5 separate regions of the Homo sapiens genome follow, and all the other regions are linked to region 1. The links come from fine-mapping of genetic effects on gene expression. A gene starts in region 1. Each other region holds a variant in brackets. All regions are shown on one strand. Distances are from middle to middle. Region 1 holds the start of RUFY1 (RUN and FYVE domain containing 1). Region 2 overlaps RUFY1 (RUN and FYVE domain containing 1). Region 3 overlaps HNRNPH1 (heterogeneous nuclear ribonucleoprotein H1). Region 4 overlaps LOC128966623 (a long non-coding RNA gene). Region 5 overlaps LOC128966623 (a long non-coding RNA gene).

Evidence for each region. PIP is the estimated chance that this variant, and not a neighbour inherited with it, causes the effect.
Region 2: its variant is the best candidate, but not a certain one, in a credible set for the expression of RUFY1 in fibroblasts (GTEx, PIP 0.82).
Region 3: its variant is the best candidate, but not a certain one, in a credible set for the expression of RUFY1 in whole blood (TOPMed, PIP 0.86).
Region 4: its variant is the best candidate, but not a certain one, in a credible set for the expression of RUFY1 in T cells (TOPMed, PIP 0.72).
Region 5: its variant is the best candidate, but not a certain one, in a credible set for the expression of RUFY1 in stomach (GTEx, PIP 0.65).

Annotation. Positions count from the first base shown.
Region 1 is chr5:179,547,424-179,553,367 of GRCh38, reverse strand. RUFY1 (RUN and FYVE domain containing 1) reads right to left here and starts at 2,814. Exons shown (of 18, transcript NM_025158.5): 1 at 2,489-2,814. The coding sequence starts at 2,798. The region is part of intron 4 of LOC128966623 (a long non-coding RNA gene); the gene reads right to left. It overlaps LOC105377762 (a long non-coding RNA gene), which reads left to right and starts at 2,864. Exons shown (of 4, transcript XR_941315.4): 1 at 2,864-3,424. RefSeq lists a silencer at 2,180-2,889.
Region 2 is chr5:179,570,539-179,576,482 of GRCh38, reverse strand. The region is part of intron 5 of RUFY1 (RUN and FYVE domain containing 1); the gene reads right to left. All of the region lies in intron 4 of LOC128966623 (a long non-coding RNA gene), which reads right to left. It also overlaps the pseudogene PRDX2P3. Among named protein-coding and RNA genes, the nearest start is that of RUFY1, 23 kb to the right of the region's middle. RefSeq lists enhancers at 1-110, 4,104-4,604. The variant C/T (reference allele first, on the strand shown) is at 3,254.
Region 3 is chr5:179,610,916-179,616,859 of GRCh38, reverse strand. It overlaps HNRNPH1 (heterogeneous nuclear ribonucleoprotein H1), which reads left to right. Exons shown (of 14, transcript NM_001257293.2): 12 at 642-734; 13 at 1,265-1,314; 14 at 1,901-2,682. The coding sequence ends at 1,314. The region is part of intron 4 of LOC128966623 (a long non-coding RNA gene); the gene reads right to left. Among named protein-coding and RNA genes, the nearest start is that of HNRNPH1, 9.8 kb to the left of the region's middle. RefSeq lists an enhancer at 2,973-3,032. The variant C/T (reference allele first, on the strand shown) is at 3,531.
Region 4 is chr5:179,628,389-179,634,332 of GRCh38, reverse strand. The region is part of intron 4 of LOC128966623 (a long non-coding RNA gene); the gene reads right to left. It also overlaps a transcript of HNRNPH1 not described here. Among named protein-coding and RNA genes, the nearest start is that of HNRNPH1, 7.7 kb to the right of the region's middle. RefSeq lists an enhancer at 1,329-1,829. The variant A/T (reference allele first, on the strand shown) is at 3,261.
Region 5 is chr5:179,652,171-179,658,114 of GRCh38, reverse strand. LOC128966623 (a long non-coding RNA gene) reads right to left here. Exons shown (of 5, transcript NR_185480.1): 5 at 4,874-5,944. It overlaps LOC100502572 (chromosome 5 open reading frame 60-like), which reads right to left. Exons shown (of 4, transcript NR_171894.1): 3 at 5,658-5,821; 4 at 4,882-5,210. LOC105377763 (a long non-coding RNA gene) reads right to left here and starts at 353. Exons shown (of 3, transcript NR_134260.1): 1 at 18-353. The variant C/T (reference allele first, on the strand shown) is at 2,804.

The DNA of each region.
Region 1 (5,944 bases):
GGCCCAGTGCAAAATTCCCGGCCTGGAGCAGAGCACAGAAGTCAGACTCCCCCTTACTACAGCCCTAATGGATTGCAACTTCCCTGCAGGGATGGGACAGGTGAGAGGCCCCTGCCCACTTGCCTGCCTAATGTGCTGTGGTACCAGCCACCCTGCCCTGAGATTCGGAGGGTGCAATCCCAACGCTGCCTGGGCAAGAGTGGGATCAGGGAGGGTAGGGAGAAGCCCCAGGGCAGCTCGAGTGGGCCAGGGCAACTGAGAACCTGTCCCATTGGACTTCACTTAAAAAACACAAATTCAAAGATAAAATTAAGAATTTCAAGCATGGGATACTTCTGAGTGCCTGGCCCTTTCCACCAGAGTGATCAAAGCCTGCATTGACTGTCCACCCATGAAGCTAGTCCTGCTATCACATAGGGTTGTTGTGAGGAATGAATGAATACTTGTACAGGTTTAAGACTAATGCCTGGCACCTTTGAAGGACAATATAAGTGTTGGCTATTGTTTCTATCACTTCCATAGATGGAACACAGGTATTTTTCAAATATGCATTTGTTCAGCAAACACTTATTATTCTGTGCCAGGTACTGACACATTTCATTTTATCTTTTTAATTTTTTCCTTGATTCTGCATTAAAGGAAAGAAATTCTAGCAGGGAAGAACTTTTATTATTTGCTTACTCCTGCCACGAAATATCTAAGAGGCCTCCAGGAGACGCCATGCCTTGACTTTCAGTACTGACTGTCAATGAGTATGCAACTCAGCATCCACTGATGTGTGGAAAAGTCTCGGGAAAAGGTGTCAAGCTAGAGGGCAGTAGATTCCCGGCCTGCCCAGGCTCTCATCATCCTCTAATGCTATTTTCCACTGCCAGGATCTCAAAACGAGTCAGCCTTTCAACTTTACTCAGTAATTATTCTTGACCACTGAAAATCTCACAATTCACTACCTGGGGTCAGTGCATCTACAGCAAAGGTACCAGTGGATGGGGAGGAATCAGGAAGCCTCGAGTGTGTGCTATGATGCTCCTTGGAAGGCACCACAACCTTTCCTCAGCTCTGTCCCAGCATTTTCTATGAAGTTGGCAATGTTCTATTATGTGCTATCTCATACAGTAGCCACTGGCCACACACAGGCTACTGAGCATTTAAAATGTGGCCGCTGTAATCGAGGAACAAGTTTTTTTTTTTTTTTTTTTTTTTGAGACAGAGTCTCGCTCTGTCACCCAGGCTGGAGTGCAGTGGCGCGATCTCGGCTCACTGCAACCTCTGCCTCCCAGGTTCAAGCGATTCTCCTGCCTCAGCCTCCTGAGTAGCTGGGACTACAGGTGCATGCCAACACACCCAGCTAATTTTTTGTATTTTTAGTAGAGACGGGGTTTCACCATGTTGGCCAGGATGGTCTCGATCTCTTGACCTCGTGATCCACCCGCTTCGGCCTCCCAAAGTGCTGGGATTACAGGCGTGAGCCACCGCTCCCGGCCGAGGAACTCAATTTTTAATTCAATTTAAAAGTACTGAATTTCAATTGATTCAGTTAGAAATTGAGGAATCCGGCCGGGCGCGGTGGCTCAAGCCTGTAGTCCCAGTACTTTACGAGGCCGAGGCAGGTGTATCACAAGGTCAGGAGTTCAAGACCAGCCTGGCCAAGATGGTGAAACCCCGTTTCTACTAAAAATATGGGAGGGGGGTGGGGGCGGGGAACTTAGCCGAGCGTGGTGGTGGGCACCTGTAATCCCAGCTACTCGGGAGGCTGAGGCGGGAGGGAGGATCGCTTGAACCCGGGAGGCAGAGGGTGCAGTGAGCCGAGATCGCACCACTGCACTCCAGCCTGGGCGACAGAGCAAGACCCGGTCTCAAAAAAATAAAAATAAATAAAAACAAAAACACACACACAAAAACATATGCGTGCTGTTGTATTGGATAGCACAGCTCTGGATGTCTGGCGTTAGAGGGCTAAGTTACTTAACTCTTACTATCACTGATATGCTGGCACTCTGTTCATTACAAGGGCTGAAAAGGTCTTTAAGAGATCATCGGGTGACTTTAAAATCCCCATCTCACAGGCAGAGGTGAGCGGAGGCGCCGCTGGTCCGCTGCGCGCAGGGCCCACGCCCTCCCAACACCCGCCGGCGCTCCACTCCCGCACTGAACGGCTGAAAAGCAGAACAGTGCTGGCTCCGTTTCGTGTGTGGAGTTACTACAGAGTTCCGAAGCCCGGACGCGCACACGTCCTTCACCTAGTTAGTGGGAGAGCATAGAGGCGCGGGTGCGGGAGCGCGCTCAGGCACGCGGGGCTGCGGGGGGCGGTCTCGGCTGGGCCGCCGGAGTAAAGACCCAGGCGCAGCCAGGCGCCGCCCGCCCGCCAACAGCTCGCGTAACCTCCCGGAACGGCCAGTGCCCTCCCAGCCCGGCCCCCACCGCGCCCGCGCCGGCGGCCAGCGGGGACACGCGAGTCCGCCGCGGGACAGACCCGGCCCGAGCCTACCTGCGCGCGCCGTGCCGTCCCCGCTGTCCCCGCCGCCCAGCCCCGCGGCCGCGCGCAGCGCGCTCCCGCAGCTCGCCGACAGGTTCCCGGTGGCCCTGCGTGCCAGGGTCAGGATGGGCGCCGACCAGCCCTCGGCCGCCCGCGGCCTCGTTGCGCTCCGCAGGTCGCCTGGGCCGGGCAGCTGGCTTCGGTCCACGATCTCAAACTCTTCTCCCGGCTCAAGCGCTGACCCGGGCCCCGGCCCCGGCTCCAGCTCCGGCTCCAGCTCCCGCCCCCGCCCAGCAGCGCAGCCGCCTTCCCGGTCGGCCATCTTGGCCGTGTCATGTGACCCAGCGGGCGGGCGGGCGCGGGGTGGGGGCGGGCGGGCATCGCCTTTGCCTTAGGTGGGGGAGATTTTTCTCCCTCTTCACCGCCTCGCCTTCCCTCTGTTTCGAAAGGTTCGGGAAAGTCCAAGTCATAACATAAAAAGTGTGCGTATTCCCGGCCGCCGGCAGGACCTGTTCGCGGGGAAGTTCCTCTTGAACTTTCTCCGAGGACAGTTGTGCACCCTGCCCGGCGCTTCACGGGGTTCCCTGGCCGTCGTTGTCTTTGTGACACCATTTCCTCTTTTAAATTTTCATTTCATGGTCTATATTTTCCACTTCGTCATTTTTCTGTAGCACTCATTAGAACAAGCCCCGAAAGGGCGACTAAGGAAACGCACAGGCGAGGCAGGAAAGCAGGAATTTTTTTTTTTTTTTAATCTAATGACTATGACGGCTTGGCAAGAAAGAGTGCACGATAGTGGACTGGAAATCAGAGGTGGCTTCTCCTATTGATTAGTTAAGTGGGATAACAAAAACCGACCTCATTATTAAATAAGATTTGCAGTAAGGACCACATGGCAGATGTTAGCGATTGTGACTACTATCTCTGGTATCCAACTGTGTGGCCTGGGTAAGTCACTATACACTCAGTCTGTTTCTTCACTTGGAAAAGAAAGGAATTTGAGTAAGTACAAAGGAAAATTTTGGCCGGGCGCGGTGGCTCACGCCTGTAATCCCAGCACTTCGGAAGGCCCAGGCGGGCCTTTAGTAGGACGAAACCCCGTCTCTACTAAAATACCAAAACAACAACAACAACAACAACAAAAAACCAGCCAGATGTCGTGGCGGGACAGCTCTACTCCTAGCTCCTTGGGGGGCTGAGAGTGGGAGGATCGCTTGAGCCCGGGAGGTCGATCCCACAGTGAGCGGAGATCATGGCCACTGCACTCCAGGCTGGGCGACAAAGTGAGACCCTGTCTCAGAAAAAACACTAAAATTTACTAGCACTTAACACTTTGCAAAGTGAGGCAACATGAGCCACACCAAACCAGCAGAGCTGTTTTGATTCCCAGAATGTTTACAAATCTTAAAACTTGTTGCCAATATTTAGAAATCAAAAGATTTCACATAAGAATCTGGATTTTAGCTTTCTCTGGAATCACTGGAATATTTGGTAACTCATGGCATATTCCCAGATGGCAACAAACTGTTGGGAATAAACTGTGCTGCCCCTTTAGACGCCCAGCTGCTCCCTGGACCTGTCTTGGTCCAGCCCACTTCACTAGGTTGCATGATATGTCTGGTCCCTGAAAGGCCAGTTCTCAGTGAAGGGATACCACTTCATCTAGGAGTGTTTTGGGAATTTGTGGAGTTGGTGTTTGAGTTGTGTAATGACTGAGGGCATACTACCAGTCTTTTTTGTTTGTTTGTTTTCGTACGGAGTCTCGCTCAGTCGCCCAGGCTGGAGTGCAGTGGCGCGATCTCGGTTCACTGCAAGCTCCACCTCCCGGGTTCACGCCATTCTCCTGCCTCAGCCTCCCGAGTAGCTGGGACTACAGGTGCCCGCCACCACGCCCGGCTAATTTTTTTTTTTTTTTGTATTTTTAGTAGAAACGGGGTTTCACCGTGTTAGCCAGGATGGTCTTGATCTCCTGACCTCGTGATCCGCCAGCCTCGGCCTCCCAAAGTGCTGGGATTAGAGGCGTGAGCCACCACGCCCGGCCTGGTCTTGTTTGTTTGTTTGTTTTTGAGGCCAAGTCCTGCTCTGTCACCAAGCTGGAGTGCAGTGGCGCAATCTCGGCTCACTGTAACCTCTGCCTACCGGGTTCAAGCGATTTTCCTGCCTCAGCCTCCCAAGTAGCTGGGACTGCAGGGGCGTGGCGCCACACTTGGCTAATTTTTGTACTTTTAGTAGAGACGGGGTTTCACCATGTTCGCCAGGATAGTCTCGATCTCTCGACCTCGTGATTCCCCCGCCTCGGCCTCTCAAAGTGTTGAGATTACAGGCGTGAGCCACTGAGCCCGGCCCTACTAGTCTTTACTGGATGCATAGACAGGGATGAAGATAGTCTAGAATAACAGCATTGTCCCGAATCCTTCATGACTTTCCAATGCTACTGGACATTTATGTAGGTGAAAAGTTTGTTTATAATGATCAGGGCGTGGAACCGAATTCCATTTTGTATAAAAACATTAACTCTTTTTTGGGGGAACAGTTTCAACATTTATCAGGCAAGGTTATTCTTCAGTAACAACCCCCAAATCTCAATGGCTTAACCTAAAAGCTGGTTTCTCATCATGCTACATGTCAATGTAGATGGGGTGAGTACTCTGCCCAACTCATTGTAGTCTCTCAGGACCCAGCCTGTTGGGAGTTTTGCATAAATATTACATGCTCCAGTCCTGCATGACAAAGGTCACTTATGCACATTTCATTGGTGAAAGCAAATCACATGGCCACGTTTAATTTCTAGGGAGTTGGGAAGTTCAGACCTATTTCTGTCTGGGAAAACCACAACTGGGAATCTTTGTGAGCAGTGTAATGACTACCATAAGTGTACCCTAAATTTTCCTGGAACGTAGCTAAATTGATTTGTTCAGAATTACACGTGCAAATGTCTATGTTATTTCAGTGGTAGTTGTGCCTCGTTTACATATTGAAATATATCTCATTTTATAGTGCTTCGCTTTATTGCTTTTTTAACAAATTAAAGTTTTTGGCAGCCGGGCACGGTGGCTCACGCCTGTAATCCCAGCACTCTGGGAGGCACAGGTGGGTGGATCACCTGAGATCAGGAGTTCGTGACCAGCGTGGCCGACATGGCGAAACCCCGTCTCTACTAAAAACACAAAAATTAGCCAGGCGTGGTGGTGGGAGCCTATAATCCCAGCTACTCTGGAGGCTGAGGCAGGAGAATCGCTTGAACCTGGGAGGCAGAGGTTGCAGTGAGCCGAGATCGAACCACTGCACTCCAGCCTGGGCGACAAGTGCAAAAAAAACTGCGTCTCAAAAAAAGAAAAAGTTGCTGTTGGCAACCCAACAGCACGTGCTTATTTTGTGCCTCTGTTTCACATTTTCGTAATTCTCAAAATATTCTAAACTTTTAAACTACCCTTACATCTGTTATATGATTTGTGATCTGTGATCTTT
Region 2 (5,944 bases), 23 kb before region 1:
TGCCATTGCACTCCAACCTGGGCAACAGAGCGAGACTTCATCTCAAAATAAAATAAAATAAGATAAAAATAAAGTGGTGACCTTAACTGACATTTCTGAGTCCTTCTTCCCCCAAATCTTGGTAAAATGGTCTAATCAATATTTCAGGAAAATTCTCTATCCCTTAGGTACAAGGGAGAACCAAGACCCCTTACACATCTAAACATCAACGGCTTTGCCAAGAAATAAAGCACTTGAGAATGAATAAGTGAGGTCATTCTTATCTGAAATACAGGAAAACTGGGTGTACCCTAAATGTTCATCAATAGAGAAAAGTTGAAATCAATCATGTTACAGCCATATCACAGAACCTATGCAACTATAACAAAGAACGCAGTAGATACATTTGCAGAAATATAGAAAAGCTGGGCACGGTGGCTCATGCCTGTAATCTCAGCACTTTGGGAGTCTCAGGAGGGTGGATGGCTTGGGCTCAGGAGTTCAAGACCAGCCTGGGCAACACAGTGAGACCCTGTGTCCACAAAAATACAAACATTAGCTGGGTGCAGTGGTACATGCCTGTAGTCCCAGCTACTTGGGAGGCTGAGGTGAGAGGATTGCTTGAGCCCAGGAGGTTAAGGCTGCAGTGAGCTGAGATCATGCCACTGCACTCCAGCCTGGGTGACAGAGTCAGACACTGCCAAAACAAAACAAAAAAAACAACAAAACTCCAGGATACAATTTCAAGTCAAAGAATCATATGTACAATCTCATTATAGTAACCCTACTTATGTTGCAACCAAGGCTATGTGTAACGGTTCTAACACATGTCTGCAACCTCTCTGACACACCTACCAAAAGGAATCCATCCATATTTCCAACCTTCAACTCTGGGGGGTCTTAGTGCCTGTCTCGATGAGTAAAATGCAGTAGAAATGATGCCGTGTGACTTCTGCAGCTAGGTTAAAAAGGGCAATACAGCTTCCACCCAGCTCTTTCTCTTGAGGCATATGCGTTTGAAGTTCTGAGCTTTCATGTAAAAAGTCTTGACTTCCCTGAAGCCACAATGCTGGAGACCATGTAAACATGGAGATGTCCAAGAAACCCCTGCCATTCCAGCCCCCAGTTCCTTGGTCTTCTCAGCACAGCAGACAGACGAGGAGAGAGCAAGTCTTCAGGTGATTTCAGCCCCAGCCATCACCTGACTGTAAGCACGTGCGCTCTTGAACAAGAACCGACTAGCTGAACCCAGTTAGCCCCCAGCTGTGAAAGATACAGTGATTGTTATTGTTTAAGTGCTGTTGCTGACTTGTTACACAGTAATAGAAGACCAGAAAATATTTAATTTAAAACAAAACCTACGTGAACATAAATGTATAGAAAAAGTAGAAAAGCTTCTAGAAAAATTTTCCCCAGAATCTTTACCATCACCTGTGGGAAAGGGAGGAGGACTGCGGCTGGGGCGGGGGGTGGGGTGAGAAGAGGAGGTTCAACTTCTCTTTTCACATTATATACTTTGGTATTGCCTAACTTTTTTCAACAAGCAAGCATTTCTTTTATAATAAAAAACCAAATCATAAAAAAATACAGCCAGGAAAAAGCAACAGAAAGATGAGAAAGAATTAATACCCAAAGCAAAAATCAATGGATTAGAAAGCAAATAAAGCCCTACTCCCAAAGTAGAATTGATAAATAAGACAGCTGGTTTGTCAAAGTTCAACCAAGTAGACAAATTTCTACTAAGTGTGATCAATATTTAGCAAATACACATTATAAATGAGAACAGTGAGATTTTTCAAAAGCTGTAAGAGAATACTTTCATACAACTCTAGCTTAGTAGAGCTGAATGAAATGGTTTCTAAAAAAATTATAAATGACTTTAAAAATTGTCTTAAGACTTAGGAAACCAATAAATTGATCAAAACTATGCTAAAAGTTAAAGTGGTCAAAGAACAAAGACCAAAAAAGGCATAAGGGTGAAGTGGTCATACCAGTAAGTTCTAGCAAGCCTGCACAGAAAAAATAATTCCTGATCTAATAAGCTGCGGTAGAAAACAAGAAAAGGAAGGCTATTTTCCAGTTTATTTTATTTTTATGTTTATTTTTTTTGAGACGGAGTTTTGCTCTGTTGCCCAGAGTGGAGTGCAGTGGCACGGTCTCAGCTCACTGCAGCCTCTGCCTCCCAGGTTCCAGCGATTCTCCTGCCTCAGCCTCCTGGGTAACCGGGATTACAGGCACACGCCACCACGCCCAGCTAATTGTTGTATTTTTGGTAGAGACCAGGTTTCACCATGTTGGTCAGGGCGGTCTCAACCTCCTGACCTCATGATCTGTCCACTTCGGCCTCCCAAAGTGCTGGGAGTGTGAGCCACCACGCCCGGCCTTCCAGTTTATGAGGCTAATACAATTCTGACACGGAAAGGTGGCAAAGGCAGTATAGAAAATTCAGAATAGTTTCACTTACAAGCAGAGACACAAAAATTCCAAACAGTAAACATATCAAATCCAGGGTTTACAATGATCAGGTAGGGATTATTTTAGAAATTCAGGGATAGTATTCAATAAGAAACCTATGAATTAGTTCAATTATATTTATGGGTTAAAAGCAGGTTGACATGTTGATAGATCCAAAAAAAGTATCTGACAACATTCAACATTCATCTCTTAAAAAATCACAAAGTAGGCCGGGCACGGTGGCTCACGCCTGTAATCCCAGCACTTTGGGAGGCCAAAGTGGGCAGATCACGATGTCAGGAGTTCAAGACCAGCCTGGCCAACATAGTGAAACCCCATCTCTACTAAAAATACAAAAAATTAGCCGGGCATGGTGGCAGGCACCTGCAATCCCAACTACTCAGGAGGCTGAGGCAGGAGAATCACTTGAACCCAGGAGGCGGAGGTTGCAGTGAGTGGAGATTATGCCACTGCACTTCAACCTGGGCGACAGAGTAAGACTCCATCTCAAAAAAAAGAAAAAAACAAAACGACAACAACAACAAAACACAAGGTAAACTGGAGTGGAAAGCACTCTCTAAACGTGAGAAACCGCATCCCTCAGACATCAGCAGCAAACATGTATACTTTATGTATACTATTATGTATATGATTATGTATACTATAGTGTGTTTGAAGAACACACTATAGGCACTGCCATTCAAGATAGCACTAGACCAGATTGCTCACTCATGTCTATTAATTAATTAAAATCTCAATGGAGTTTTTATTCTGGAATTTGACAAAACGATGTTCAAGTTCATCTGGCAGAATGGATGGC[C/T]CAGAAATATTTGAAACAGAAGTACAGCAGAGTAGGCAGGCGCTTAACTACCAGAGTCTAGAATATACTATCTGGCTCCAGTCATTAAAAGAATGTGTCACTGGCATAGGAACACAGATTCAGATTTACAACAGAAGAGTCCAGAAATAAACCAATGCATATTATGGATATTTCACATATGATAAAAGTGGAATTTCAAATTAGTAGAAAAAATATATTACATGATGATATTGCAAAAACTGGTTAACTATTTGTAAAAGAAATTTAGATTCCTACTTCACACTATGCCAAAACAAATGGCAAAAATGTGTAAAATTTACACATTTTTTACACATAAAGTGTGTAAAAAATTACCCAGGTAGAAGCAGAAGGTCTTGGCCTGGCCCTCCAGGGTCCCAGACTGTGGAGATTGGAGGGGCAGGTCTGGCCTTTCCTGGGTTAGCACAGGGTACCCAGTAGGGGCACAAGCTCACTATCCATCGGCCAGCCTAGTTGTGTTTGAAGAAGTATTCCTTGTCATCCACATTGGGCTTCATTGTCGCTACCAGGCTTCCAGCCAGTGGGACAAACTTTCCCGTGCTCATCTGCGTACTGGAATGCCTGGACCAGCTGCAGAGCCTCATCCATGGAGCACCCCAGAGGCAAATCATTAACAGTGATCTGGCAAAAGTCACCCTTGCCATCGATGATAAAGAGGCAGGGTAGGCAATGCCCTCATTGGTTTTCAGCACACAGTAATCTTCAGACAAGCTTCCCGTCACATCAGCGGGTGGGGGATGCTCGGGGGCCTAAGCCTCCCTACTTCTGGGGGTTGTTGATCCAAGCCAGGTGGGTGAACTAAGTCCACCCAGACACCCAGCACTTCGCAGCCCAGCTTGCGGAAATCCTCGGCATGGTCGCTGAATGCGACGTTCTCCATGGGCCACAGAAAAGTGAAGTCCAGAGGGTAGAAAAAGAGGACGACGTACTTCCCTTTGTAGCCCACAGCTTCACCTCCTGGAAGGCGCCATCCACCAGGGCAATGGCCTTGAAGTCAGGGGCTGGCTTTCCGAGCTGCGACTGACTGGAAGCCATGACTGAAAGCTGTGGCGGTAAAGGCTGGACAGACTGACAACCAGACGCGTGGACTCAGGTTCCAGCTCCCCACATTTGATATTAAAAGTTAGGGTAATGTTTAGATAGGGAAGGACCTTCAAAGCACAATACCTTAGAAGGTATAAAGGAAACATCTGCTAAATCTGGTTGCCAAAAACTAAAAATAAAAAACTTACAGGGCAAACCACCACTGAGAAACCAGAAAAAAAATTTATAACAAATAATTCTGAAAAAGGGTCAATGTGCTTAGTCTTTAATAAAGAAGTAGAGAAAGAAAACTCAAAAATGGACAAAGAATATGAAAAGATAATCACAAATGCTGAACCACCAATGGCAAATAAAACAGGAAAATACTTGTAAATTTGAGATAATGAGTTGTTTTGTCCATGAGGCTGAAAAAGACTGAGAATGCTCATCACATCCAGTGTCAGGAGGAAATGTGTTCTCTCCCACACTGCTGGTGGGTGTATATAATGAAGACCTTTCTGGAGGTCCGTTTTATGTTATCTAGCAAAATGTAGCCTGTATACTTTGACACAACAACCCCAAATTTATCCTAAGGAAATACACGGACAAGAGTACAGAGAACTTCAAGGATGTCTATAATATTGGTGTTTTTTTTTTTTTTTTCCAGACAGAGTCTGGCTCTGTTGCCCAGACTGGAGTGCAATGCAGTGGCATGATTAGAGCTCACTGCAGCCTTGATCTCCCAGGCTCAAGCAATCCTCCCACCTCAGCCTCCAGAGTAGCTGGGATGACAGACAGCATGCCACCATGCTCGGCTAATTTTTTTAAATTTTTGGTAGAGACAAGGTCTCACTATTTTGCCCGGGCTGGTCTCAAATTCCTGGGCTCCAGTGATCCTCCTACCTTGGCCTCCCAAAGTGTTGGAATTACAGGCGTGAGCCATGTGCCCAGCAATAGTATTGTCACAATATGGAAACAATCTAAATTAATAAGGTACTGGTTACATAATTGTACGTTAAAAAATGAAATACTACATAGTCATTTTAAATGGTTTATATCTCTCGTTATTGAGAACTGTGTGGAACATATTGTTAAATTTTTTAAAATTACAAAATGGTGTGCTTAAAATAATCATAGTTTGGTTTCATAAAAAAAGAAACCCTTCGAACATCTCACTCTAAAATACACAAACATATACACACACACATGCATGCACACACCTTTATTCATCTGCTAGAAGGGTGTATACCAGAATGTAACACTGAATTATCGGTCTAAGAGTAATGAGAATATGTGTGATGTTTAGTGTCTTTTCAAAAATACTTCTCTGAATTCAAAAAAAGATATTTTTCAACATGCAAAGACAATCGAACTTTTTTTTTTTTTAAAGGGAGGAGAGGTTATAAAAAAACACTGACCTGCACATGGAGGGATCAGGGAATCTTTAGATTCACCAAACACAATGCAGGAAAAAGGCTGGGAATTTTGCTAGGTAGTGTAAAATAATCTCTTTTTTCTGGGCAGTGGCCCAGCTACAGCTGCGGATGCCCCGAAGAGGGGGTGGAAGTGAGGAATGGGTTAGGGTACCTATTCCCCTCACACATTTACAGTCCCTGCCACCAGGAGTTT
Region 3 (5,944 bases), 63 kb before region 1:
GTTAGTTTTTTTAAAAACCAAAACGTTTATATCTGTATAAGTCAATTATAAGTTAAGTTAATCTATTTATTTAATAAGTTTAGCATAAGAAACTTAGGCAAAGCAGTTTCTTGATATTTGAGTTTTGTATCTGGCTTACTTAAATCCTTGTGAGTTATGAAGTTCCTTAGGATAGATAATTCAAATTAGGTTTAAGTAGTCTTGGGGGAGGGGACTACGGAGTGAAACTACTTAAATTTTCTAAGTATAAAGTTTAAATCAATAGCAAAACAGGATTAAGATAAATGTGGGCATAATTAGGTGTATTGACATGCCTTTGATGTATCAAACTGAGGGGGAACCCACTAAATCCAGTCAAGCAGTTTCATAAGATCTTCACAAAATGCCTCTACTTACGGAATCATGTTGATTTTAGTCCTGCTGATGTGTGTACCGTTAGCACTTTGGTTTATCAATATTTGACTGGCTCAAATGATGGATAGAAGGGTGGCCTGGTTATAGACAGTAGGCAGAAGGAGGCAGAGGGTTACAGTAATGTAAGATCAAGACTGGAAAATGATAGCTATAGAATTACAAGCCCGGTACCACCAGGTACCACATCACATAAGAAAAAAGGTTCTAATGTTTTCTTAACTTAACAGCAAACCAGTCCAGCTACGGGGGCCCAGCCAGCCAGCAGCTGAGTGGGGGTTACGGAGGCGGCTACGGTGGCCAGAGCAGCATGAGTGGATACGGTAAAGCCTGTTTGTTACTGTACTTAGAGTAAGTTATGGTAAAGCCTGTTCATTACTGTACTTAGAGTAAGTTATGGTAAAGCCTGTTACTGTACTTAGAGTAAGTCGCAGGCAGGTGCCTTTAGTTGGGAAGATGCAGGCTCCTTTCGGTGAAATTGGGTTATGAAATGTATGCTTTCAATCCAAATGTAACTGTTTTTACTAGCTAATTTTCAGAAACAATCATTGGGAGGGGGAAGTGTTCTTTGAATTAAGAACTAGTCATTGCAGCTTTGGAATACTGTCGAGCCAGAAAATATCTGCCTCCATGTATTAAAACATTAAATAAAGTTGTTCACTTTTTTGTCTTTTGGTTAGCATTAAGTCAGTTTTAGACAGAGGGAGAATTTGAAATAGTAGAATGGTGGTTGGGTTCAGGATCGTATTTATTAGTCAGTTAACCTAGGATTGGTTTTATTTATTTTTTTTCAATTGGTCTAAAGAATGGTGATTTTGGTATTATAGTCTTACCCTACAAAATCCTTTTGCAGACCAAGTTTTACAGGAAAACTCCAGTGATTTTCAATCAAACATTGCATAGGTAAATATTTTCTCAAAAAATATAAATTCCCAATAGCAAATACTGATATGTTGTAATAATGCTTTCTATAGCAGTCAATGGCTCTGACTTAACTCCATGGAGGCTGCCATTTGGGCACAGTGAGTTGCCTTTAGTCCAGCTTGGTTGTCTCACTTCCTGCCCACCATGAATAGGAAAAGCAAGAGACTTCCCCTGTGCTCCCTTTTCTCAAATGCCATTCGAGGGACACATTGTGAATGTTTATGTTAAATTTTTTTTAAAAATGCCTTGTTTAGCTTTAAAAATACGAAGTAATTTTGCAATTTTTGAAAAACACTAGTTTTCCTTTAAACTTAATTTTTCATGTTGATCCTGAAGAATCCGTTAAAATGGTAGCACAAGAGTCTGGCAAGTTGGTACTGCAGAGAAAAGGGGTTAATTGAGGCTTGTTTGGAGTCGGGATTCCCCTTTCCCAAACATGCGTCTCGCCACTTGGACAGCAGCCATTTGTACTCGTATACTTTTTAAACTTTTTCTTGGAATACTATATTTTATTTGACTGGTAGTCTGATATTACTCCTAACTTGTCAAATTGATCTCTTTGCAGGTAACCAAGGAGCAGTGAACAGCAGCTACTACAGTAGTGGAAGCCGTGCATCTATGGGCGTGAACGGAATGGGAGGGTTGTCTAGCATGTCCAGTATGAGTGGTGGATGGGGAATGTAATTGATCGATCCTGATCACTGACTCTTGGTCAACCTTTTTTTTTTTTTTTTTTTTTTCTTTAAGAAAACTTCAGTTTAACAGTTTCTGCAATACAAGCTTGTGATTTATGCTTACTCTAAGTGGAAATCAGGATTGTTATGAAGACTTAAGGCCCAGTATTTTTGAATACAATACTCATCTAGGATGTAACAGTGAAGCTGAGTAAACTATAACTGTTAAACTTAAGTTCCAGCTTTTCTCAAGTTAGTTATAGGATGTACTTAAGCAGTAAGCGTATTTAGGTAAAAGCAGTTGAATTATGTTAAATGTTGCCCTTTGCCACGTTAAATTGAACACTGTTTTGGATGCATGTTGAAAGACATGCTTTTATTTTTTTGTAAAACAATATAGGAGCTGTGTCTACTATTAAAAGTGAAACATTTTGGCATGTTTGTTAATTCTAGTTTCATTTAATAACCTGTAAGGCACGTAAGTTTAAGCTTTTTTTTTTTTTAAGTTAATGGGAAAAATTTGAGACGCAATACCAATACTTAGGATTTTGGTCTTGGTGTTTGTATGAAATTCTGAGGCCTTGATTTAAATCTTTCATTGTATTGTGATTTCCTTTTAGGTATATTGCGCTAAGTGAAACTTGTCAAATAAATCCTCCTTTTAAAAACTGCACTCTGTCTTGTCTGTGCTTCAGTGTCATGTGGACTGAGTCTTGGTGCTCTGTGCCCACCTGGGGCCTAGGGCCACATCTCTGGCTTGGCAGTTGAGGCTGTTGCGTAGATGTCTTCAGTCTTCCCTCCAGTGCAACTGAAGGTAAACTCGTCTTTGGGGCCCTGGTGGAAGGGCTGTATGTCATTTGGCTGCACAGGACCTGATCTGAACTGCCTGTAACTCATTAAGCACTTGCACAAAACAAAGGGGGAGGCGCCAGTGCCCTCACTGCATGCCTGCATGTCTTTGAGGCCTTCATGCTTGGCTGGGAAGGTGCCGGAGGCAAGGGAGGTGTGATGAATATGTGGGTTTCTTCTAGCTCATAAGCTCATAGGTTTGTTTTTTTTTTTGAGGCAGAGTTATATTCTGTTGTCTCAGGCTGGATTGCAGTGGCGTGATCTCAGCTCACCTGCAACCTCCACCTTGTGGGCTTCTGCCTCAGCCTCCCAAGTAGTTGGGGTTACAGGCGCCCACCACCACTCCAGGCTAATTTTTTTTGTATGTTTAGTAGACACGGGGTTTCACGATGTTGGCCAGGCTGGTCTCCAACTCCTGACCTCATGAGATCTGCCCACCTCGGCCTCTGAAAGTGCTGGGATTATAGGCTGGAGCCATTGCCCAGCCTTCACAGATGGTTTTCAAATGGAAGTTTTGAACTTCTGTATTTTTGGGTCATTCCTAAAAATCAATTCCACTTGGAAGCAAAATTCCATGTAAGTCTCCTAAGGTAGAACGATAGGTAGAGATTGAGAGCTAACATGAGAAGTTTAAATGAACTCTTAAATATATCACGTTTTGGTAGTTCGAAG[C/T]TCCAACATGATGATAGCAAGTATTCAAGCTGCTTCCAAGTGGTGTACCTGAGCGAGTTAGAAACGCCACACTTGGAGACGAGTTCAGGAGTCCTTTATTAGCCGGCGACCGAGAGACGGCTACCGCATGAAAGTATCTCGGCCTCGAAGAAGGAGCTAGATTTTCTTTTATACTTTGGTTTGGAGAGGGGAGGGGGATTCTAGCTGCAGCCATCTTAGGGAAGAAAAACAGACAAAAAAGTTAAAGACAAATGGTTACAGGAAAACAGTTCCAGGTGCAGGAGCTTCAAATTCATCACAAAGTGACAGGTGAGGGGGCTCTGGGTGTTATCTACCGGACAAACATGGGGGCTTGATGGTACCATCTCTGAGTAAATTGCTGGGAACTGGACATCGCTTGCCTCAGCACCTTATCAGTTAACTGCACTCTTTGATACGTTGAGAGCTTGCACAAGTTAAAGTCCTTGAGGAAAGGGGGGTGGGTAAGGAGCCCTTGATGTCTTGTAAATGAAGGAGCCAAATGGAGTTGGCCTGGTTTTCTCAGCGAAGGGAGTCTTCATATTAAAAACAAGGTTAGGCATGTAAGGGAGAGTCTATTCGTGTTAATACAAGGTTGGGTATCACAAAAGCAGTCCTGAAAAGCACGCTCCCGGGGTTCCTTCAGCAGATGCTCAGGGGTGCTGCAGTGTGGGAACTGCCGCTACTACTTTCATCCCATTAGATTCAAGTCCCTGATAATGAAATTAGAATGTAGTGTCTGAACTAGGCTGTCACATAGGCTTGTGCCTTTTTTTTTTTTTTTTTTTTGAGACGGAGTCTCGCTCTATCGCCCAGGCTGGAGTGCAGTGGCGGGATCTCGGCTCACTGCAAGCTCCGCCTACCGGGTTCACGCCATTCTCCTTCCTCAGCCTCCCAAGTAGCTGGGACTACAGGCGCCCGCCACTACGCCCGGCTAATTTTTTTTTGTATTTTTAGTAGAGACGGGGTTTCACCGTTTTAGCCGGGATGGTCTCGATCTCCTGACCTCGTGATCCGCCCGCCTCGGCCTCCCAAAGTGCTGGGATTACAGGCGTGAGCCACCGCGCCCGGCCGCCCTTTAAAGCGAAGTGTGGATAAGCTTTCTCTTTTCTGCGATTACACGAGCTTTTCTTGAGTTTGTTGTTGGGGTAGAGCTAGGTAGGGTGGACAGAGTGGCTTAGTATCGGTCATTTCTAACCATCTGCCCACAGGAGCAGTGCATGCAGGAGACATGGAGGGGAGGGCTTTGCAGATCTACCTTGCTTGCCCCTACCAGGACTGGACACTAGCAGAGGGAAGGGTCTGGAATGTGTATTGTTGGTTTTGTCTTTGGCAGGTCTAGAGAACAGCAGTTGTCGGGGGAGGCAGTGTTGAGAGTTGTTGAGCTGTGTTCTAAGCTTGGTTACTGCCCTTGAGATCTTGCGTTAATAGTTTGGTACTGAGGCCCAGTATTGAGAAAGATTGAAGGTCCCTTCTCTGGGTTCTTTAGTTAACTGTGGTACATTTAAGGATAAAGCTTGCCCTGTTAGAGAAGGGAGTAGAACTAGAAACTTGGAGTAAGGTTAAACTAAATCCAGAGCCATACGGCTAGTCTAGGGCAGGGGCGGTGGCTAACGCCTGTGATTTCAACACTTTGGGAGGCTGAGGTGGGTGGATCACCTGAGGTCAGGAGTTCGAGACCAGCCTGGCCAACATGGTGAAACCCTGTCTCTGCTAAAAAATACAAAAATTAGCTGGGCATGGTGGTGCACGCTTATAATACCAGTTACTGAGGCAGAGGTTGCAGTGAGCCAAGATCGTGCCATTGCACTCTAGTCTGGGTAACGAGCGAAATTCCTGTCTCAAAAAAAAGTCTAGAAGCATTATGGTTCTTTGGAATCTTATGCTCCATAGCTTGTTTGCAGTAACTTAACCTCCTGACCTTGTCAGTTGGAATCTGCATTTTAAACAAAATCCTGACCACTCACCCCTACCTCAGTTGACTTGGGAAGTGCTGCCTTAAAATATCTATCTTTCATTTCTCAGGCCTGGGTAAAGGTGGTATGGTAGCAGACCAGGGACTGGAGATTCCAGAGTTAGGGCTTGGAATATATTTCAGTTTCTGAGTAGGGAAGTTATCTTGACCAAATATTGCCAACTTTGAAAATTTCACTTAAACACTTGTGTTTATACCCAAGTGTCAGGCACAGAGGTGGGAACCTCCTGCATGTTTTTATACTGAGCTGTCAGAACAGACTTGAAGTAGGGGAGGGATAGATTATTCTGCTTTTGTGTGTGCAGATGAGAGCTAAGACTCAAGTGAACTGACTTGCCTAAGGCTGCCCAGCAAGTTAGGGGTCCAAACTGGGTGTATTGAAAAGGCACAGATGTCATATATGCCAGTTAGGGGTAGTGAG
Region 4 (5,944 bases), 81 kb before region 1:
TCCCCTGAAAGCAGCGGCTGTGGGGAGTTGATTCGGAAGTGAAGGGCCCTGGGCGACCCGGCGAGTAGAGGCAACACCAACACTCCTCCTTAGCGAGGGGTCTCCCCGCCGCGGTGGCTGCCCGGCCCCAAGGACAGGAGGGATTTGTGCACTGACTCCTGACCCCGTCCTCCAGCGCTGCTCTGAAGGGAGAGTCTGTGCAGTGGCACCTGCGCGAAGCTGGCCAAAGCCTGCCCAGACGGCTCACCTGTGCGGGATGGAACAAAAGGTGAGCCCAGGGGGCCTGATAAAATGACCTCAGTAGCCGCCTGTGGGAGGGGACCCTGAGGAAAGCACCATAGTGACTACCAAGCCTGGATGGTTTTACTGCTTACTTTGTTATTTTATTTTATTTTATTTTATTTTATTTATTTTAGAGACGGAGTCTCGCTCTATCACCCAGGCTGGAGTGTGGAGTGCAGTGGCCCGAACTCGGCTCACTGCAACCTCTGCCTCCCCGGTTCAAACAATTCTGCCTCAGTCTCCCGAGTAGCTGGGAATACAGGTGCACTCTGCGACGCCTGGCTAATTTTTGTGTTTTAGTAGGGACAGGGTTTCACCGTGTTGCCCAGGCTGGTCTCAAACTACTGAGCTTAGGCAATCTGCCCACCTCGGCCTCCCAAAGTGCTAATATTGCAGGCATGAGCCACTGCGCCTGGCTTTTTATTTTATTTTTTGGACAGGCAGGGCACGGTGGCTCACGCCCGTAATCCCAGCACTTTGGGAGGCCAAGGCAGGTGGATCACGAGGTCAGGAGATGGATACCATCCCGGCTGACACGGTGAAACCCCGTCTCTACTAAAAATACAAAAAAAAAAAAAAAAAAAAAAAATTAGCCGGGTGTGGGGCGGGTGCCTGTAGTCCCAGCTACTCGGGAGGCTGAGGCAGGAGAATGGCGTGAACCCGGGAGGCGGAGCTTGCAGTGAGCCGAGATTGTGCCACTGCACTCCAGCCTGGGCGATAAAGTGAGACTGTCTCAAACAAACAAACAAACAAACAAACAGGCCGGGCGTGGTGGCTCACACCTGTAATCCCAACACTTCGGGAGGCTGAGGCGGCGGATTACCTGATCTCTGGAGTTCAACACCAGCATGACCAACATGGTGAAACCCCATCTCTACTGAAAATACAAAAATTAACTGGGCATGGTGGCTCACGCCTGTAATCCCAGCACTTTGGGAGGCTGAGGCAGGTGGATCACGAGGTCAAGAGATTGAGATCATCTTGATCAACATGGTGAAACCCCGTCTCTACTAAAAATACAAAAAATTAGCTGGGCGTGGTGGTGGGCGCCTGTATTCCCAGCTAGTGGGGAGAATGAGGCTGGAGAATCGCTTGAATACAGGAGCTGGATGTTGCAGTGAGCCGAGATCGCGCCACTGCACTCCAGCCTGGCGACAGAGCAGGACTCCGTCTCAAAAAAAAAAAAAAAAAAAAAAAAATTCGCCGGGCTTGGTGGGGCTGTAATCCCACCTACTCGGGAAGCTGAGCCTGGGCAACAAGAGCGAGACTCCGTCTCAAAAAAAAAAAAAAAAAAAAAGATATTTGATTTGGCTTTAGACAGTGAGTGACCTGGCTGAAGCCTTGGGAGGTTCGCACCCGGAAAGTTCAAAACCGGCCGCCTGCGTTGTCCGCCTGGAGGAGGCGCGCAGCGTGAACCGGAGAGGGCGTGCTCGGTCCCTCCTCAGGTGGCCGTCGGGCAGACCCTTCTCCTCAGCGGACGGCTGGACACTGTGGGGACGCCTTTGTTTCCGCCGCTCATGGTGTCTGAATCCACAATTCGTTTACGTGGTTGTGGAGCCGGACTCGGCGTCGGAAGGACGGTCTCCTTCAACACAACAGTGGGGCTCCAGCGAAGGCGGAGAGACGCGGGGATCCCAGCCGCAAGGGCGGACCGTGCTGCCTGGCCGCGGCGGGGGAGGGGGTGCTACCCCATACCCGGGCTCTAACCGAGACGCCCTTTTCTTTTTTCTTTTTTTTTTTTTTGAGACGGAGTCTCGCTCTGTCACTCAGGCTGGAGTGCGGTGGCGGGATCTTGGCTCACTGCAAGCTCCGCCTCCCGGGTTCACGCCATTCTCCTGCCTCAGCCTCCCAAGTAGCTGGGACTACAGGCACCCGCCACCACGCCCGGATAATTTTTTTTGTATTTTTAGTAGAGACGGGGTTTCACCGTGTTAGCCGGGATGGTCTCGATCTCCTGACCTCGTGATCCGCCCGCCTCGGCCTCCCAAAGTGCTGGGATTACAGGCGTGAGCCGCCGCGCCCGGCCGAGACGCCCTTTTCTTAAGTCTCCGCAGCTTGCAGTGTACCACCCGAGCAGGTCCCGGAGGCGGCCGATGCTGTTTATCACTCAGAAATTTAAAGTTTGTTTGTTTTGAGAGAGGGTCTCCCCACTTTGCCTAGGTTGGAGTTAAGGGGCGCGATCTCAGCTCACTGCATCCTCCACCTCCTGGGCTCAAGCGATCCTCCCACCTCAACCTCCTGAGTAGCTGGAACTACAGGCATGTGCCACCAGGCCTGGCTAATATTTAAAAAAAAAATTTTTTTTTTTGAGGTCTTGCTCTTGTTGCCCAGGCTGGAGTACAGTGGCGCGAACTCAGCTCATCGCAACGTCCAATTCTTGGGTTCAAACAATTCTCCTGCCTCAGCCCCCTGAGTAGCTGGGATTACAGGCCTACGCCACTGCACCTGGCTAATTTTTTGTATTTTTAATAGAGGCGGGGTTTCACCATGTTGGCCAGGCTGGTCTTGAACTCCCGACCTCAGGTAATTTGCCTGCCTCGGCCTCCCAAAGTGCTAGGATTACAGGTGTGAGCCACCGCGCCCAGCATGTTTTTAACTTTTTGTAGAGATGGGGCCTCAATATGTTGCCCAGGCTGGTCTTGAACTCCTGACCTCAGGTGATGTGCCTGCCTTGGCCTCCCAAAGTACTGAGATTATAGGCATGAGCCACCACACGGAACCTAGATCATTTTTTCTCAACTTTTTTTTTCATGATCGCCATCTTAAAGATCCTTTCTAGATCTTTTTTCCTAGTTTCCCACCACATGATATTTTAATAACATAGATATACCGTAACGTATATCTTTTCATGTCCTGTGGCCCTTTGGAAGGCAACAAACCATTATGTTACCTAAGATTTATTTCCTTCCCCCTCACAGCCTCCCCATCCCACTACCCCCATGCATTCATACCAGAATTTATTCCATACTTCATTAGAC[A/T]TTAAATTGTTTTCTAAAGCTTCCCTATTTCATGCTGCCATGAACAATCTTGTAATTAAATCAGTGCAAAAGTAGGAATGGAATGTATGCTTTAATGAAATGTATGTTTTTTGATTTTTGTTTTTGTTTTTTTTTTGAGCTGTTTTTGTTTCTTTTTTGAGATTTTTTTTTTTTTGAGATGTCGCCCAGGCTGGAGTGCAGTGGCACGATCTCGGCTCACTGCAAGCTCTGCCTCCCGGGTTCACGCCATTCTCCTGCCTCAGCCTCCTGAGTAGCTGGGACTACAGGCGCCCGTCACCACACCCAGCTGATTTTTTGTACTTTTAGTAGAGACGGGGTTTCACCATGTTGACCAGGATGATCTCAATCTCTTGACCTTGTGATCCGCCCACCTCGGCCCTCCAAAGTGCTGGGATTACAGGCGTGAGCCCCCGCGTCAGGCCGAAATGTATGCATTTATACTGCAAATAGCCCTGAGCGAGAGGGTGTACCAATTTACACTCCAAGCACAATGTACCTTGATGGCATCTCCCTGCATCCTTTCCAGCTCTCTTAATTACTCTTTTAAATGATCATTAATTTGAAAATTAGTTGCAAAGGCTTTGCGTTATTTTATTTAATTTGCATTTCTTTGGTTACCACTCAAAGGGACACTTCTCAAGCCTATGGATCATCTGCATATTTTCTTTTCTTTTTCTTTTTCTTTTATTTATTTATTTTTTTGAGACAGAATTTCACTGTTGTTGCCCAGGCTGGAGTGCAATGGCAAGATTTCAGCTCACCACGACCGCCGCCTCCCACATTCAAGCGATTCTCCTGCCTCAGCCTCCCAAGTAGCTGGGATTACAGGCATCTGCCAGCACGCCTGACTAATTTTTGTATTTTTAGTAGAGACAGGGTTTCTCTATGTTGGTCAGGCTGGTCTTGAACTCCCGACCTCAGGTAATCCACCCACCTTGGCCTCCCAAAGTGCTGGGATTACAGGCATGAGCCCGGTCATCTGCATATTTTCTTTTGCAAATCTCAGGGTTCTGTTTTTTTGTTTTATTTTGAGACAGAGTCGTTCTGTCACCGAGGCTCGAGTGTAGTGGCGTGATCTAGTCTCACTGCAACCTCCGCCTCCCAGGTTCAAGTGATTCTCCTGCCTCAGCCTCCAAGTAGCTGAGATTACAGGCAAGTGCCACCATGCCTGGCTAATTTTTGTATTTTTTTAGTAGAGACGGGGTTTCACCATGTTGGCCAGGCTGGTCTCCAACTCTTGATGTCAAGTGATCCACCTGCCTTGGCCTCCCAAAGTGCTGGGATTACAGGCGTAAGCCACTGCACCCAGTCTACTTCATATTATTAAGAAATCCATGAAAATATAATTATAATGGCTATAACATGTCTTCACATAAAATAATTGGAGTATAACAGTTTCCATCAAATCTAAAATATCATCAATTTTAAGTCCCACCATTATTTTCTGTACTACTACGAACAAATTCTGGCCTGGCATGGTGGCTCATGCCTGTAATCCCAGCACTTTGGGAGGCCGAGGCAGTCAGATCACTTGAGTTCAGGAGTTCCAGACCGGCCTGGCCAACCTATCTCTACTAAAAATACAAAAATTAGCCTGGCATGGTGGCATGTGCCTATAGTCCCAGCTACTTGTTGGGAGGCTGAGGCAGGAGGATCACCTGAGCCTGGGTGGGGGAGGTTGCAGTGAGCCAAGATCATGCCACTGCACTCCAGCCTGGGCGACATATCATCATTATTATTACTTTTTTTTTTTTTGAGACGGAGTCTCGCTCTGTCACCCAGGCTGGAGTGCAATGGCGCGATCTCGGCTCACTGCAAGCTCCGCCTCCCGGGTTCGAGCCATTCTCCTGCCTCAGCCTCCCGTGTAGCTGGGACTACAGGCGCCCGCCACCACGCCCGGCTAATTTTTTGTATTTTTAGTAGAGACGGGGTTTCACTGTGTTATCCAGGATGGTCTCGATCTGCTGACCTTGTGATCTGCCCACCTCGGCCTCCCAAAGTGCTGGGATTACAGGCGTGAGCCGCCGCGCCCAGCCGGGTTATTTATGATTGCATTTATTTTCTTTTCTTTGAGGCACAGTCTCGCTCTGTCACCTAGGCTGGAGTGCAGTGGTGTGATCTTGGCTCACTGCAACCTCTGTCTCTGGGGTTCAAGCCATCCTCCCACCTCACACTCCTGTGTAGCTGGGATTACAGACGTATGCCACCACACCCGGTTAATTTATCTTTTTTCCTACACTTGATCTTTGCCAAAAGGATGAGATGTGATAATGTAGTAGAGACGGGGTTTCACCGTGTTGGCCAGGTTAGTCTGGAACTCTTGACTTCAAGTGATCAGCCCACCATGGCCTCCCAGAGAGCTAGGAGTACAGGGTGAGCCACCATGCCCAGCTGATATCATTGGTTTTAAAACACATTCCTGGCCAGGTGCGGTGGCTCATGCGTGTAATCCCAGCAATTTGGGAGGCTGAGGTGGGTGGATCACCTGAGGTCAACATGGCAAAACCCGGTCTCTACTAAAAACACAAAAATTAGCTGGGTGTGGTGGCAGGCACCTGTAAACCCAGCTACTCTGGAGGCTGAGGTAGGAGAATCGCTTGAATCTGGGAGGTGGAGGTTGCAGTAAGCCGAGATCATGCCATTGCATTCCAGCCTGGGTGACA
Region 5 (5,944 bases), 100 kb before region 1:
AAATGAAAGGTCCTTACCCGGCTTCCTTGCGATTTTCCCACTGCTTCCCCGCGCCAGGGCCGCCTCCTCCGCGGTGCGCGGGAGTTCGGGGAGCGCGCGCCCCCTGCCGGCCGGCCGGAGCGCGGGGCGGGTTTCGCGCCCTCCGTGACCTGGTAGAGCTTGGAATTGCTTCGCTTGTTCTCGCCCGAGGCTACTTTGAGGTTCTAAGTGACTCCCCGTTCCCCGGGTGCCTCGCCGTCGAGAAGCCCAAAGCTTCTCCATCTCCAGCGCTGGATGAGGCTCCCCTAGTTTTCCTTCTGCCCAGATACCCTGTGCTCTCACACAGGTCGTGCTCATGGCGGGGAACCGGGACTGCCGTTGTACGTGGCCTGGAGCTCACTTCCGCTCTCCCCCTCGCTGGACCTCTGACCGCAGGTCTCTGAGTCTGTTTCTTGGAGATTTGGGATAGCTGGGAGGCCCCATGAGAGCGAGACGGTGAAGCTACCAGCAATGGGGTCTGGTTCTGATGTAGCCATTGACCCCAGCTTGCACAGCTGAGCTTGCACATTCCTCCTCTCCTCCCCAGCCCCTGCCCCCGCTCCCAGCTGTGGCTGCCCCATGTCCTCTCCAGACCACCCCGCACAGCTGTGGCTGCCCCATGTCCTCTCCAGACCACCCCGCACAGCTGTGGCTGCCCTCCCAGCCTCCCTCTCACACCGCTCTGTGTGACTTTGTCCTGTGCTTGCTCCTGACACATGGACTTCGCTTTATCTTTCTTTTTTTTTTTTTAATTTTAATTAAAAAAAAAATTTTTTTTTTTGAGACAGAGTTTCTCTTTTGTTGCCCAGGCTGGAGTGCAATGGCGCACTTTCGGCTCACAGCAACCTCTTCCTCCTGGGTTCAAGCGATTCTCCTGCCTCAGCCTCCCGAGTAGCTGGGATTACAGGCATGTACCACATGCCCGGCTAATTTTGTATTTTTAGTAGAGACAGGGGTTCTCCATGTTGATCAGGCTGGTCTCGAACTCCTGACCTCAGGTGAACCGCCCACCTCAGCCTCCCAAACTGCTGGGATTGCAGGCATGAGCCACCGCGCCCGGCCTCAATTTATCTTTTATACTTGCCCAGGGCCAAAGGGAAGTCTTACATTAGTCAAACTCACCAGATTCAGTAAAAACTCAACCCTAAAATAATTATTTGAGACCGTGCAGTGGCTCACGCCTATAAGCCCAACAATTTGGAAGGCTCAGAGGTAGGCTTACTTGAGCCCAGGACCTCAAGACCAGCCCAGGGGGCCAGGCGCCGTGGCTCACGCCTGTAATCCCAGCACTCTGGGAGGCCCAGGTGGGTGGATCATGTGGTCAAGAGATCGAGACCATCCTGGCCGACATGGGGAAACCCCGTCTTTACTAAAAATACAAAAATTAGTGTGATGGCGCCCGCCTATAGTCCCAGCTACTTGGGAGGCTGAGGCAGGAGAATTGCCTGAACCCGGGAGGTGGAGGTTGCAGTGAGCCGAAATCGTGCCACTGACTCCAGCCTGGCGACAGAGTGAAACTCTTGTCAAAAAAAGAAGAAGAAGAAAAAAAAAGAAACCCAGAAAACAAAACGAGTCTTCGTCTCTACAAAAAATTAAAAAATACTTAAAAAATAATTACTTGGGTGTGGTGGCACCTGCCTGTGGTCCCAGCCAGCTGGGAAGTTGAGATGGGAGGATAGCTTGGGCCCAGGAGTTGGAGGCTCCAGTGAACTGTGATTGTGCCACTGGACTCCAGCCTGCGTGACACAGCAAGATTCCACTTCTAAAAAATAATTATAATCTGTCAAATTTCGGGACAGATAATCTTGGCCTCCCAGCCCAAGATTTGATTTGATTTCATTTTATTTTAGAGACGGAGTCTCGCTTTGTCGCCCAGGCTGGAGTACAATGGCACAGTCTCAGCTTACTGTAAACTCCACCTCACGCGTTCAAGCTATTCTTCTGCCTCAGCCTCTTGAGTAGCTGGGATTACAGGCGCGTGCCACCATACTCAGCTAATTTTTGTATTTTTAATAGAGATGGGGTTTCACCATGTTGGTCAGGCTGGTCTCGAACTCTTGACCTCGTGATCCGCCCACCTAGGCCTCCCAAAGTGCTGGGATTACAGGGGTGAACCATCCCGCCTGGCCAAGTTTTTATTTTAACAACTACTGTGTGTGAGAGAAGGGGGTGGGCTAGAGTAGGGTAATATGTACACGCTATGGCTGAAACAGAAAAATGGTAACTTTATTTTCTACTTCCCAGCATGCCCTGCTCTGAGCCCTCATTCCTAGTGAAGGTGGAAACAGAGCAAACTTGCTCTTGTATGGATTTAATTTAGTCTTTTTTTGTAATTACTCAGCCTTTCAGGTTGCTTTCTTCTCCGCTGCTCATTCTGTAGCAGACACTGGGTTGCCTACATAATCCCTTTTCCCCATTCTTTGCCAAGACCTCTGACTTTCTTTGGGATCCACCCTTGGAGAAGGTGCCTCTTGTCCTGGTTCAGGGACATATCCTGACGTGTCTAAGCCAATCACTGTAATGCCATTTCTCTCACCTCGGTTGGCTGGGGTGTGCATGAGACCAATTTCTGACCATGAAAACTCATGGATGTCTGCCATGGGGTCCATTCTTGAAAAGAAACACAAGTGGCCGGGCGCAGTGGCTCACGCCTGTAATCCCAGCACTTTGGGAGGCCGAGGCAGGCGCATCACGAGTTCAGGAGATCGAGACCATCCTGGCTAACACGGTGAAACCCCGTCTCTACTAAAAATCCAAAAAAAAATTAGCCAGGCGTGGTGGCGGG[C/T]GTCTGTAGTCCCAGCTACTCGAGAGGCTGAGTTGGGAGAATGGCGTCAACCCGGGAGGCGGAGCTTGCAGTGAGCACAGATCCTGCCACTGCACTCCAGCCTGGGGAACACACGGAGCAAGACTCCATCTCAAAAGACAAAAAAAAAAAAAGGAAAAAAGAAAAAAAAAAGTAAGGAGCCACCCACAGAATGAGGGAAAATATTTGCCAACAACTAATGGAACAACTCAATTCAAAAATGCATGAAGGGGGCCTGGTGCAGTGACGCATGCCTGTAATCCCAGCACTTTGGGAGTCTGAGGTGGGTGGATCACGAGGTCAGGAGTTTGGGACTAGCCTGACCAACATTGTGAAACTCCGTCTTTACTAAAAATGCAGAAATTAGCTGGGCATGGTGGAGTGCGCCTGTAATCCCAGCTACTCAGGAGGCTGAGGCAGGAGAATCGCTTGAACCCGGGAGGCAGAAGTTGCAGTGAGCCGAGATCGCGCCATTGCACTGCAGCCTGCGTGACAGAGGGAGACTCCGTCTAAAATGAATGAATAAATAAATAAACGAACAAAAAAGCATGAAGGGGCCGGACCCGGTGGCTGAGACAGGTGGATCACTTGAGGCCAATAGTTCAAGACCAGCCTGGGCAACACAGCAAACCCCATCTCTACAGAAAATACAAAAATTCGTCAGGCATGGTGGTGTGTGTCTGTGGTCCCAGCTACTGGGGAGGTTGAGGCAGAAGGACTGCTTGAGCCTGAGAGGCAAAAAAAAAAAAAAAAAAAAAAAAAAAAATAGCTGGTGGTTCATGCCTGTAATCCCAGCACTTTGGGAGGCCAAGGCCAGCAGATCACTTGAGGCCAGGAGTTCGGGACCAGCCTAGGCAGTGGTGGCGAGCGCCTGTAATCCCAGTTACCCGGGAACCTGAGGCAGGAGAATCACTTGAACCTGGGAGGTGGAGGTTGCAGTGAGCCAAGATCGCGCCACTGTACTCCAGCTTGGGCAATAAAGTGAGACTGTCTCAGACAAACAAACAAACAAATGAAAAGGCTGGGCGGGGTGGCTCAACGCCTGTTATCCCAACACTTTGAGAGGCCGAGGCGGGCGGATCACGAGGTCAGGAGATCGAGACCATCCTGGCTAACATGATGAAACCCCATCACTACTAAAAAAAAAAAAAAATTAGCAGGACGTGGTGGCGGGCGCCTATAGTCCCAGCTACTCGGGAGGCTGAGGCAGGAGAATGGCGTGAACCCAGGAGGCGGAGCTTGCAGTGAGCCGAGATCACACCACTGCACTCCAGCCTGGGCAACAGAGTGAGACTCCGCCGTCTCAAAAAAAACAAAAAAAAAAAACAAAAACACCAGGTGTGGTGGCTCACACCTGTAAACCCAGCACTTTGGGAGGCGGATGCAGGCAGATCACGAGGTCAAGAGATTGAGACTATCCTGGTCAACATGGTGAAACCTTGTCTCTACTAAAAATACAAAAATTAGTCGGGCGTGGTGGCACACACCTGTAGTCCCAGTTACTTGGGAGACTGAGGCAGAAGAATCACTTGAACCCGGGAGGCGGAGGTTGCAGTGAGTCGAGATCGCGCCACTGCACTCCAGTTTGGGTGACAGAGCAAGAGCCCATCTCAAAAAAAAAGAATCCTTCTAAGTAGTTTATCAGCTTAAGCCATGTTGGCTGAACATTAAGACTGTCAAATCCTAAGGAACAAAATAATATTAAAATTAGGAAGAATTATTTTGCCATAGGATAAAATAGAAATACTGCCATACATTTGACTCATTTGTTTGAAAATCTTTATATGGTTGTTGCTTCATTTAAAAACCAGACCTCACAAACCTGACCCAAGTTATGTGCAAAATAATGTGCCAGTTGCACAGCCCCTGGAGGCCAGTGTGAGCCCACATGCCTCTGCTGGTTTATTTCTAGAGTCCACTCGCTGTGGGTCTTGATCATGTTTCCAAAATAGGGAAGTCACCCATCTCTATTTCAGGCCTTGTTGCCAATGAAATTTTAAACTATGACATTGATACCATTTGACTAGACAATAACTAAAATTGAACAAAGAAGATATTTTCCTCTCATTGGAGGTTGCAGCATTTTATTCAGGTTTACAATTTGTGATTCATCCAGCCGTGGTGGCTCAAGCCTATAATCCCAGCACTTTGAGAGGCTGAGGTGGGCAGATATCTCAAGGTCAGGAGTTCAAGACAAGCCTGGCCAACATGGTGACACCTTCTCTCGACTAAAATTACAAAAATTAGCTGGGTGCGGTGGCACAAGCCTGTAATCCCAGTTACTCGGGAGGCTGAGGCAGGAGAATGGCTTGAATCCGGGAGGCGGAGGTTGTGGTGAGCCAAGATGGTGCCACTGCACTCCAGCCTGAGCAACAGAGTGAGACTCCATCTAAAAAAAAAAAAAAAAATTGTGATTGTGTAAACTGTGACTCAGGGAACTGCAGAGAACAGAAGTTTGCAGGTCTACACGTGGAATCTGCAGTTCTGTTAGGAGAGACTGGCATTGCAAAAGAGCAGCAATTCCTGAGCATCTTCCCCAGCAGAGAGCCCATTCTGGGGGCAATGTTGACAATGACCCAGAGTCTCTGGGTTCTCCAGTGGGGTGCACAGCTGATGTTATCCCTCCTGTGCTGGCAGTTTTCTAAGTGAGTTCAGATCCTCTAGGAAGGAAGATCTGTGTGTGCAGCGCTGTGGAAGAGGTCTCTGTGGGCGCCAAGCCTCCCAAGGAGATTTACGGGCTCCAGGGACTGGAGGTTTGGACCCCATCTCCTTCTCTCCCAATCCATTAGAACACGCATTTCCAGCATCTGTGGGGTGCCCAGATGAGGGGACGCGCCTCCAAGTTGTCCTCAGGAGATTCCCAATTGTTCGTGGATGTCGGATATTCGGTGTCCATGGGAGTGTCTGGGATTTTGGTGTCTTGTGCGTCCAGCAGCGTTGGCACATCCAGGCTGAGGAAAGCGGGACCCCTGCCTCCGCCTGCCTGCATGTGGGGTCTCCCTAGAAAGAAGCCTTTGGTAGGTGGGTGGGAAGATTAGGGTGCTTGAATGGGTACTGTGAGGAGGTGCAGTGGCACCAGGCTCTAGCAGCCTCCTGCCTCCAGGAGAGGCCCAGGTTGGGATC